Regions from separate parts of the Homo sapiens genome. Here region 1 is linked to region 2. Evidence: fine-mapped QTL for protein levels in blood plasma. A gene starts in region 2. The other region holds a variant in brackets. All regions are shown on one strand. Distances are between the middles of the regions.

Evidence for each region. PIP is the posterior inclusion probability: the model's chance that the variant is causal. The UK Biobank Pharma Proteomics Project read protein levels with antibody pairs (Olink). The fine-mapping took linkage between variants from a reference panel, not from the people measured, so its PIPs are less certain.
Region 1: its variant is fine-mapped to the plasma level of the EPHB4 protein (UK Biobank, PIP above 0.99).

What each region holds. Positions count from the first base shown.
Region 1 is chr7:100,946,573-100,951,932 of GRCh38, forward strand. It overlaps MUC3A (mucin 3A, cell surface associated), which reads left to right and starts at 2,962. Exons shown (of 12, transcript NM_005960.2): 1 at 2,962-3,113; 2 at 5,269-5,360. The coding sequence starts at 3,053. It overlaps LOC105375431 (a long non-coding RNA gene), which reads right to left. Exons shown (of 3, transcript XR_007060457.1): 2 at 1-179. RefSeq lists enhancers at 2,501-3,479, 3,480-4,458, 4,509-5,054. The variant T/G (reference allele first, on the strand shown) is at 2,254.
Region 2 is chr7:100,825,544-100,830,831 of GRCh38, forward strand. EPHB4 (EPH receptor B4) reads right to left here and starts at 1,980. Exons shown (of 17, transcript NM_004444.5): 1 at 1,436-1,980. The coding sequence starts at 1,487. It also overlaps a transcript of SLC12A9 not described here. RefSeq lists enhancers at 1,984-2,779, 3,576-4,371.

The DNA.
Region 1 (5,360 bases), 120 kb after region 2:
AATCCATTTTCCATTTACGTCTGTGTCTCCAGAACAGTGATGGGAATTTTATGGTGTTTGATACTTAAAAAAAAAAAAAAAAAAGACTGGAAACCCCCGAAACCTCCAGCTTGGTTTGCAGCGTCTTGGCTGGCTGTGGTGCTTGACCATGTGGCTCAGCAGTTTCCACAGAGACTGCTCTGAAAAACAACAACAAAACTTTTTGCAAACGAGTATCTTCATGCTGGGCAACTTGATCAAATGTATTAAGAAATTGAAGTGGAAGACCCCAAGAGTAGCCCTGCTCCCTGTTGGCCCCTCCCCTGAGTTACCCCCAGTGGTGTCATTGTCGGGCTCTGAGCTCCACCTCATTTGGACTCTTTAGCTTTTCATTTCTTTGCTCACTTCCTCAACTTGACCACACACACTGAGGCCAGGGCTATACAATGTGTCCCCTGGATTTTGGTGCAGCCATTTGCACAACCGATGCGCAGGCAGTGTCACTTGGTGGGTATGCACAGCGCCTCTTATTTAGGGTCCCTTCAGTGACTCTCGATAAGGACAAGGTCCCCCAGGAGACATGAGAGGCACAGCCCCTCACGAAGATCTCCCAGCGGGCCTGGCCTCAGAGAGTTCGCTGGCTGCCTTTGCAATCCTGTCCCTTGGGCCTGCTGGGAAGAGGAAGAGCTGCAGTTTCTCTCCGCAAAGCTTCTTCCCTTAGGGATGGTCAGACCTATTTAGATCTATTTTTCTTTTTATCTTTTTTTTTTTTTTGTAGAGATGGGTCTCGCTATATTGCCCAGGGTGGTCTTGAGCTCCTAGCCTCAAGTGATTATCCCGCCTTGATCTCCCAAAGTGTTGGGATTACAGGTGTGAGCTACTGTGCCTGGTCTGACCTAATTTTATTTTATAATTTTTTTTTGAGACGGAGTCTCACTCTGTCACCTAGGCCAGAGTGCAGTGGCGGGATCTTGGCTTACTACAACCCTCACCCCCTGGGTTCAAGCAATTCTCCTGCCTCAGCCTCCTGAGTAGCTGGGATTACAGGAGTGCACTATCATGCCCGGCTAATCTTTGTATTTTTAGTAGAGACGGGGTTTCGCCATGTTGGTCAGGCTTGTCTCAAACTCCTGACATCAAGTGATCCGCCCACCTCGGCCTCCCAAAGTGCTGGGATGACAGATGTGAGCCACTGTGCCTGGCCCTGACCTAATTTTATATTCATAATTTTTTTTTTTTGAGACAGGTTTTTGCTTTGTCACCTAGGCTGGAGTGCAGTGGCTCGATCATGACTCTTTGGAGCCTTGACCTCCTGGGCTCAGGTGATCCTCCCATCTTGGCCTACCAAGTAGCTGAGACCACAGGGGCACACCACTATGCCTGGCTAATTTTTTTTGTGTTTTTTTTTTTTTTTTGGTAGAGATGGGGTCTTGGCATGTTGCCCAGGCTGGCCTGGAACATTTGGGCTCAAGAGATCCTCCTGCCCCGGCCTCCCAAAGTGCTGGAATTACAGGCGTAAGCCACTGAATCTGGCCTGAGCACAGTGTTCTGTAGGGTGACTATTCCATCTTCTTTCTGGGTTGAAACAATCGTTTGGGCTGTTTCCAATTTCCATCAAAATTGCCATAATCGAGAGTCAATAAACATCCTCATGAATGCTGCCTTGAAGGGTTTCTTGGACACAGAGATGGAGGGTGAAATTGCTGGGTCCTAAGGCACTCATTTAAAATTTTAATAGATGCCACCAAATTACCCCTTTAAAGCAACCCAACCCACCTACACACCCACCAGCTGGATAAGAACATTTGTTTTACTTTATCTTGTTTTTGAAATGAAGTGTCGCTCTGTTGCCCAGGCTGGAGTGCAGAGGCACGATCTCAGCTCATTGCAACCTCTGCCTCTGGGGTTCAAGCAATTCTCCTGCCTCAGCCTCCCAAGTAGGTGGGATTACAGGTGCCCACCCCACGCCAGGCTAATTTTTGTATTTTTAGTAGAGATGGGGTTTCACTATGTTGGCCAGTCTAGTCTCGAACCCCTGACCTCAAGTGATCCTCAAATTACTCTTTTAAAACAACCCAACCCACCTACACATCCACCAGCTGGGTAAGAACGTTTATTCTTCACACCTTTGCCCAAACTGGATAGGTCAAACAATGTGCTGGGTCCAAACCAGTTTTTTTTTTTTTTTTTTTTTTTTGAGATGGAGTCTCGCTCTGTTGCTCAGGCTGGAGTGTAGTGGTGTGCTCTTGGCTCACTGCACCCTCCACCTTCTGG[T/G]TTCAAGCGATTTTTCTGCCTCAGCCTATTAGTAGAGATGGGGTTTTGCCATTTTGCCCAGGCTGGTCTCGAACTCGTGACCTCAAGTGATCCACACCCCTCAGCCTTGCAAAGTGCTGGGAATACAGGCGTGAGCCACCGCGCCGGGCCCAGACTAGTATTTTTGAGTGTTTCCTTTGGTCATCCATGTTTCCTTTTCTGGGACCTAGCCCCAACTCTTCAGATAATAAAATGACTTCAGATGGAATTCTGTGTTAATTACTCCCACGGTTTTTTCTGGCCTATGGGGTCCTGCGGGGGACAGGATGGAGCAGGGGCAGACTGAGGGACAGAAGGGGCTTGAAGGAGAGCGAGGTGCCACTGTCTCCCCAGCAGGAGGAATTGAAACTCAGGAGAGGCTGCAGGAGTAGGACCAGACTCCAGAGTCCAAGCCCTCGGTCAAGGGTACCCTCCACGGGTGTCGGGGAGGAAGGGCAGCTTCCAGGCAGTTCCATGTGGGCCAGGCAGGCTGTGGGGCTGAGCCAATAGCAGCTCTTCCTGCCTGACACTTCCTGGACTTGTCCTATCTTTTTCCCCCGTGTCCCGCTTCCCACAGCGCTGACGTCTGTCTGTCCGGGTGCAGGGAGAAGGGAGGAAGAGGGGAGAGGTGGGGCGGTGCAAAGGTGAGGCTGTGCTCAGCCCTGACGCTCAGCAAAACCGATAACCAGCACTTTCATTACGTGCACGCCCCAGGGCCACGTCCCTGCCGCTGTCTTGGTCCTGAAGCCTGTTCTGCCCCAGCCCCCTGCCCGCTGGGCCCATGCAGCTGTTGGGGCTCCTCGGCCTCCTCTGGATGCTCAAGGCCTCCCCGTGGGCCACAGGTAAGGGGGAGAGGCGGAAGGGGGTTGGAGAAAAGCTCCTGATGTGATGTTCCAGGAAAGGGGAGGGAAAAGTGGCTGTAAGGCCTGGGGAGGGGGGATAAGAAGGCACCGCTTGGGGCTCTGGGTGCAGGGAGAACCGAGGCACGGCCTGACTGGGGGAGGGGGCGGTGAGGAGAGGTTTCTTCCAGAGCTCCAGGTGCAGGGAAAACCGAGGTTGGGAAAGAGTGAGGGAGCTGGGTCTCTGCCACTCTCCACCAAGCACTGAGCAGGTTGCAGCGGCTGAGCCCCAATCTGTATCTGCAGCTGGAGGGTAGAGGGTGGGATTTACGTCTTCCCAGAGCAGTGCCCTTCCTGTCTTGACTCCTTCTGTCACCTGCCTCACGCCCCCAGCTTGAGTGTCCCCTTCACACTGGCCTCTCCCTCCCTGACAGCCCTCTAACTTCTACCCCTGGTCTCGGTCCTCTGGTTTCAGCCTCTCTGCCTTTTGTCCCCCGGCGGCTCCTCCCCAGCTCTGCCGTCACTCTCTTACCCCGGCCAGGGCCCATGTGTCTGGGTACAGCTGTTGGTACCAGGGCCGGGGCAGGGAGCTCCTGATGTCCACTTCGCTTCCAAGGGTGCGTCTGAGACTACCCGTCGTGGGGTCCCAGGCTTCTCTCTTCTGCCCTGCAGGAACACCTCGCAATTCCTCTATACTTCTCTTTTCTCTGTACTTCAGTGTCTGCTTCTGATCCCCGATCCCAGGCCACCCAGCCTACAGGCCCATGAGTCCCCTTCTCAGTCACCTCCAGGGCCACATCCTGGAGCCAAGGGCTGTAGCCTGGGGATTCTCATAATCCCTGACCCCACTTCCCTGGCACCCACGAGCTAGGTTGAGACGTGACACCCCAGCTCTCAGCCACAAGATGGGCTGTGCCCGAGGTGAGGGGTAGCAGGTCGGGTACCTCCCACTTCCCATCTGCTGTGGCTGCCTGTCTTCCTTGTCCCTGACACCCCCGACAGCCGGATCTCTGATCCTAACTCTGACAAATTGTGAAATGGGTTGAAATCCACATGCTGGGGTTCATGCTTGTAAACTAATGAATCCCACGGCCAAAAGGGAATAGTATAGAAAAATATGTCTATTTGTGTGATGAACACTCACTGCTAAGCCTTAAGGTCTCCAGAACTCATCACGCCTGACTGCTGAGGTAGCTCCTTCTGGAAGTTTCCTTTTCTATGCTGTCTCTCTGCCTCTTCACCTAGTCCTCACTCCATGCCCTTTGAAGTCATTAGTGTGTGAGCTTAGCCTGTTTCTCTTTGGTGTTCTCTGGGCAGTTTTTTGTTTTTGTTTTTGTTTTTGTTTTTGATGGAGTCTTGCTCTGTCACCCAGGCTGGAGTGCAGTGGCACCATCTCAGCTCACTGCAGCCTCTGCTTCCTGGGTTCAAGCGATTCTCCTGCCTCAGCTACAGGTACACGCCACTACGCCTGGCTAATTTTTGTATTTTGTTTTAGTAGAGAAAGGGTTTCACCATGTTGGTCAGACTGGTCTCGAACTCCTGACCTCAAGTGATCTCCTGCCTTGGCCTTTCAAAGTGCTGGGATTACAGGCATGAGCCACCGTGCCTGGCCCTCTTTGTTCAGCTTTCCCTGTCTCCTGGTTTTTGTGATGCGCCCCCTGCCAGGACATGGCTGGGTTCTCTCTTTTTCTCTTTGAAAGCGGAGTCAGCCCAGACAGCAGCAGGGTGCCGGGAGAAGCAGTGGTGGGAGCAGAAGGTTAATGGGGGGATGGGAGCACTCCAGGCAGTAGCAGGGGGAGGAGAGGAAGGGGCAGAGGGAGGAGGAGCCTGGGTGTGACCAGAGGAGGGAAGGGAGGGGAGGGAGGCTCTGCCCAGCTCGGCTATATCAGGACAGGAGGACCTGCCATGACAAGGCCAAGGCCCGGTGAGGAATGAGGGCTCCCATGCCCCACTGCTCCCCTAGGAGCAGACAGGCAGTCGTCTCCAGCACCACAAAGCACCCAGCTCCAAGCTGCCTCTGATGCAGGAGTCAGCTGTAATATGCCCTGCCCTCTGTGATGCTGCCTGGAAAATGGGTGAGTGAGTAGCTTACATGAGTGATGTAACAAAATGACCCACGGATTTACCAGTGGATTCCTCTGCTCTGCCGCCAATGCAGGAACTTTATCCACGGCCACATCCATCTCTCAAGTGCCTTTCCCCAGAGCAGAAGCAGCCAGCGCTGTGCTCAGCAATTCTCCACACTCCAGA
Region 2 (5,288 bases):
CCTCCACTCTCTGTCCACCTCCGTTTCTCTTTCTGACAGTCACTATCTCTCCTTCGCTTTCGGCCTCCACTTCTCGCTGTTCCTCGCGGCACAGGGCCTTGGATAAACTACTTAACCTTAACTAAGCCCCAGCCTCCTCATCTGAAAAATGGGGGCAATAATAGCACCACCCTTAGCGTTGCTGGATGGGTGAAATTAATATTTGTAAGGCGCTCAGCACAGGCCTGGTGCTTGGAAACACTCAGGTAATAGGTGTCACAATCACCATTTCCTCTTTGCGTCTTTCCTTCTCACCACACCTCGTCCTCGTGGTTTTTCCACCCCTTTGGCCTTCCTCTTCCCCTCGTTCATGGTTTTTGTTCCCCCTTCTCCGTTCTCTGAGCTGGGCAAGCCTCCCCTCACTCCCAACCCCACACCTAGCCTTTGATCCCCAGCCCAGGGCAGTCCTGCCCAGCCAGGGGGAGAGGGTTTTTCTAACGCCGCTGAATCCTTCCCTTTGGGAGTCCCTCATAGCCTACCGCCCCATAACCACTTTCATACCAGACAGAGAAAGGGGGGTGTTGGCAGCTCACTGAAAGGACATTAGGGACACAGGAGAGTTTCTAGGGCTCTTGGCTCCCCCTTTAGGGGACCAGGAGGGACAGCGATCCATGGCCAAAGAAATGCTTGGAGAGACCAGGAGGTGGGAGATAGACTGGGTTAGTTAGGGCGATGTGGGGGCTGTGTAGGTCAGTTTCTACCTGGGGGCTGTGTAGGTCAGTTTCTACCCGCTCCTAGGTCTCAAGGGAAGCCCGGGACTCACCTGGGGCCGGGGTCTAGACCGCATTTAAAGGGATGGGGTGCAGCCTGTAGAAACCAAGGAGCCACCCTATACCAGGGGCAGGAGCAGTGGGCGGGAGAGCGGTTTGGGGGTTTGCTGTGTGAATGCAAAGGAGGCCATCCTGTTGCAGGAGTGTGGAACTGGAGGATCAAGGTGTGATCGCTAAGGAATTGGCGCTGGGGGTCGTTTTAGGGCCTAGCACGAAAAGTTGTGCCTTGTCTGCTGTTGCTTCTCCAGAAACCTTCCCTCATGTACGGCGGGAGGTGGGACTGGGACAGAAACTTTGCAGATAGTTTTGAATAGTGGGGTAGGGAGGAAAGGAAAGGCAGCCAGGGGCGTATGTAATCAGCAGTGAGAGTTCGGGGAGCCCGGGCAGGGGAATGTCCCGGGTCGTAGCCAGACTCCATCTCTTTCCCAAACAAAAGAAAACTCCACTACCCGTCGGGCGCCTCTTCCCCGCCCCCCTCCCGTTCCAGCACTATCGGTCCGAAGTGTTTGGGACTGCAGTGCCCGGGTAGGGGTAGTCAGAGGCCGGCCCCTCCACTCCGAGGCCCAGATGTTGGGGGGGAGGTCCCAGGAGTGACGGGGTGCGCCCCCCCCCGCAAGGAAACTCACCTTCCAAAGCTGCGGCCAACGAAGCCCAGCAGAGCAGCACCCGGAGCTCCATGGCGCCGCCTCACTCGGGTAGGATCCGAACTGAGTTTGGGGGGCCCTCGCCCCCCCAGGTCTGACTCTCCCTGGGCGGGTGGACGCCGATACTCCGCGCGGGACTCCTCGTCGGGGCCCTCAGCGCGGGCCCATGCGAGCGTGCGGGGCACCGGGCGGCGGCGCCAAGTGTGGCCCCGCGTCTGTGCCGCGCGCGCGGGCGGCGGGCCCGGAGCGTGCTGGCAGTGGCCGCGCCGGGCGGGCGCGCAGCAAGACGTGGCTGGAGTTGGGGTCCCTCCGGGGCCTCGGGGTCCCGCCCCGGGTGGCGGGGGCTGAGCCGGCCGCTCGCGGTCTCCCCCCCTCCCTGGAGTGGCTCTGCTCGCGCCGCCGGGCCGAGTGCTCTCCTCGCGGGCGGGGATGGTGGGAGCCCGAGCGGGGACGGAGCGGGAGGGAGGGAGACTGCGGCGCGGAGCCGGGCGGGCCGGGCCGGGCAGGGGCTGAGCTGCGCTGGAACTGGGCCGGGCGGCGCCGGGCCCGGGAGGGAGGGGCGCGCGGGGGGCGGGGGCAGCTCTCCCAACGCGGGGGCTCCGCGAGTGAGCCCCGGGCGCGCTGATTGGAGCTCACGCTACTGAATAATTCATGAGGGAAGCGGAGAGGGGCACCGAGTGGAGCAGGTCGGGAAGTTGAGAGAAAGTTTGGAGAAGGGGGAGGGGCGGCGGGTGAGGAACCCCGGGACCGCCCAGATGTGCGCCGTGGCGGTGCGCGCTGTCCAGGACCGAGCATGTCGGGGCTGGGGCCCAGGGACCCCCGGGACAGGCCCGAACCCGGCTGGCACCAGGGAGCAGAGAAAACACACACCCAGCAGCAACACGGAGGGCCGCCCAGGCGTGCACGTAAATGTTCACCGCGCACACAAAGCCCGCTCTGACCTTGCTGCGGACTCTAGATGCCGCTCTTGGATGCGCCCACCACCCTCTAGTGGGCGCAGGGACTGCGTTTTGGGGGAAAAGGAAGGAAAAGGGAGTAGAAGCTTTGGAGAATTGACGGCCGCCCAGGGGGCCTCAAGGAGCAATCCCAGTTTGGATAGCCTTGCAGCGAACGTTCACACAGTCACCCCATAAACATTCAGTGTTGGGGACCTACTGTGCGCGCAACCAAGCCCTGAAAAATGTCCAGAGGAGGCGCGCACTAAGCTGCGCTAGGGAGTAGAGAAAAATCGAGGAAACAACGGTAAAGAAAAGGTGGGTGTGGCGGGCGCGGTGGCTCACGCCTGTAGTCCCAGCATTTTGGGAGGCAGAGGCAGGCGGATCATTTGAGGTCAGGAGTTCAAGACCAGCCTGGCCAACATGATGAAACCCCGTCTCTACTAAAAATACAAAAATTAGCTGGGCATGGTGGCGCGCGCCTGTAATCCTAGCTACTCGGGAGGCTGAGGCAGGAGAATTGCTTGAACCGGGACCTAGGAGGCGGAGGTTGCAGTGAGCTGGGAGCTGAGATCGCGCCACTGCACTCCAGCCTGGGCTACAGAGTGAGACGAAATCTCAAAAAAAAAAAAAAAAAAAAAAAAGGTGGGTGTGTCCGAGAGGGTGAGGGGTCCGGCTAGATCTCCAAATCGCCCTTCTCACTCTCACTCTCGTGTTTTGGGGGGGCTTCCCCGCCGCCCGCAGCCATGACCCCTGAGGCTGGGGCTGCGGCTGCGGCTGCTGTCTTTCCTGAGCTGTTTCCTGTCTGGCTCCTGGGGGCCCTCGGGATGGCTGGGAGGGGCCCTTCCTCTCACTGCCAACTCCCCTCACCCTCCCATCAGTTAGCGGGGAGGGTCCAGCACAGCCGTGCTCCTCCCACCAACCCCCTTCTACTTCAGGGAACTTAACAGTATGGGTTACTGGATAGATGGATTGGAGGGGGTGCTGCTCCAGGAGTCAGCCCCTCCAAGGGGCAGAAGGAAAGGACTTAGACTCCCACAGTAATTAGCGGGGACAGATTTTTTTTTTTTTTTTGAGACAGAGTCTCCCTCTATTTCCCAGGCTGGAGTGCAGTGGCGTGATCTGGGCTCACTGCAACCTCCGCCTCCCAGGTTCAAGCGATTCTCCTGCCTCAGCCTCCCGAGTAGCTGGGATTACAGGCACAGGGCACCAACCCCGGCTAGTTTTCGTATTTTTAGTAGAGACAGGGTTTCGCCATGTTGGCCAGGCTGGTCTCGAACTCCTGACCTAAAGTGATCCACCCACCTTGGCCTCCCAAAGTGCTGGGATTACAGACGTTAGCCACCGCGCCCAGCCGGAGGACAGAATCTTGAGGAGCCCAGCAAGAGAGACGTTGGAGCCCAGCAAGAGAGACGTTGGAGTCCAGGATGCTTGGGGGGCTGCCAAGCGCCCTTACGTCCCAGAAAGGACAGCCGGGCCTGTGATAACCTCTTGTCCCGGCTTACTTATCTTCCTGCTGCAAGAGGTGTTCCCCACACCCCTGCCCTTCCTTGCTGTTCTGCCTGGGTCCTGCGCCCGGGTTGGGGGGGGTGGGCCGGTCACCGAGGGCAGGAAACAGCCGGCTTCACTGGAGCCAGGCAGACCAGGCTGGAGCTGGGAATTCCCTCCTCCCTCCCCGATGCAGGCCCAGTCTCCCCTTCTCTTATTCAGCTTCTCCCTCGGGGTTCTCTGCAACCCTCTCCCAAACCCCTGCCCTGCCTTTTGCCACTCTCACTCTGTACCCAGATCCTGTAGCCTCTAAAAGTTATGTCTTCTGGCTGGGGACAGTAGCTCAGGTCTGTAATCTCAGCATTTTGGGAGGCCGAGGCGGGTGGATCACTTGAGCCCAAGAGTTCGAGACCAGCCTAGCCAACATGGTGAAACCCCTCTCTACTAAAAATACAAAAATCAGCTGGGCATCATGGCACACACCTGTAGTCCCAGCTACTAGGGAGGCTGAGGCACGAGAATCGCTTGAACCCGGGAGGCAGAAGTTGCAGTGAGCAGAGATTGCACCACTGCACTCCAGCCTGGGCAACAGAGCCACACTCTGTCTCCAAAAAATATATAAAGTAAATAAATAAGTAAATAAATAAATAGGCTGGGCGCAGTGGCTCACACCTGTAATCCCAGCACTTTGGGAGGCCGAGGCAGGCGGATCACCTGAGGTCAGGAGTTCGAGACCAGCCTGGCCAACATAGTGAAACCCCTTCTCTACTGAAAATACAAAACTTAGCCAGGTGTGGTGGTGCAGGCCTGCAGTCCCAGCTACTCGGGAGGCTGAGACAGGAGAATTGCTTGAACCCTGGGAGGCAGAGGTTGCAGTGAGCTGAAATCGTGCCACTGCACTCCAGCCTGGGCAACAGAGTGAAACTCTGTCTCAAAACATAAATTAATTAAACAATAGAAAACACTCATCTTAGTGGGGCACAGTGACTCATACCTGTAATGCCAGCACTTTTGGAGGCTGAGATGAGAGGATCGTTTCAGTCCAGGAGTTTGAGGGCAGCCTGAACAACATAGCGAGACCCTGTCTACAAAAAAAGAAAGAAAGAAAGAGAGAAAACATTCTATTCCATGTCAGGTCATCAGCCCACACCCCACACCAGGCAGTAATCTATTTTCTACCATCTAGTGTATGCCAGTCAAAGAATGAAAAAATGAAATCTTTACTGAGCATCTACTACGTGCCGAGTGATCACATTGCTAGTTTTCAAGATTTGTAAAACATGGTTCCTGGCCTCAAAGAGAATCTGGTAAAAATTAATATAGTTTTATGTCATCTGGTGAATTACAACCTGGTAGAAAAAAAATCCCATGATTTCCCCTTTACGTGGAGATGGCATCTGAGATTTTCACTT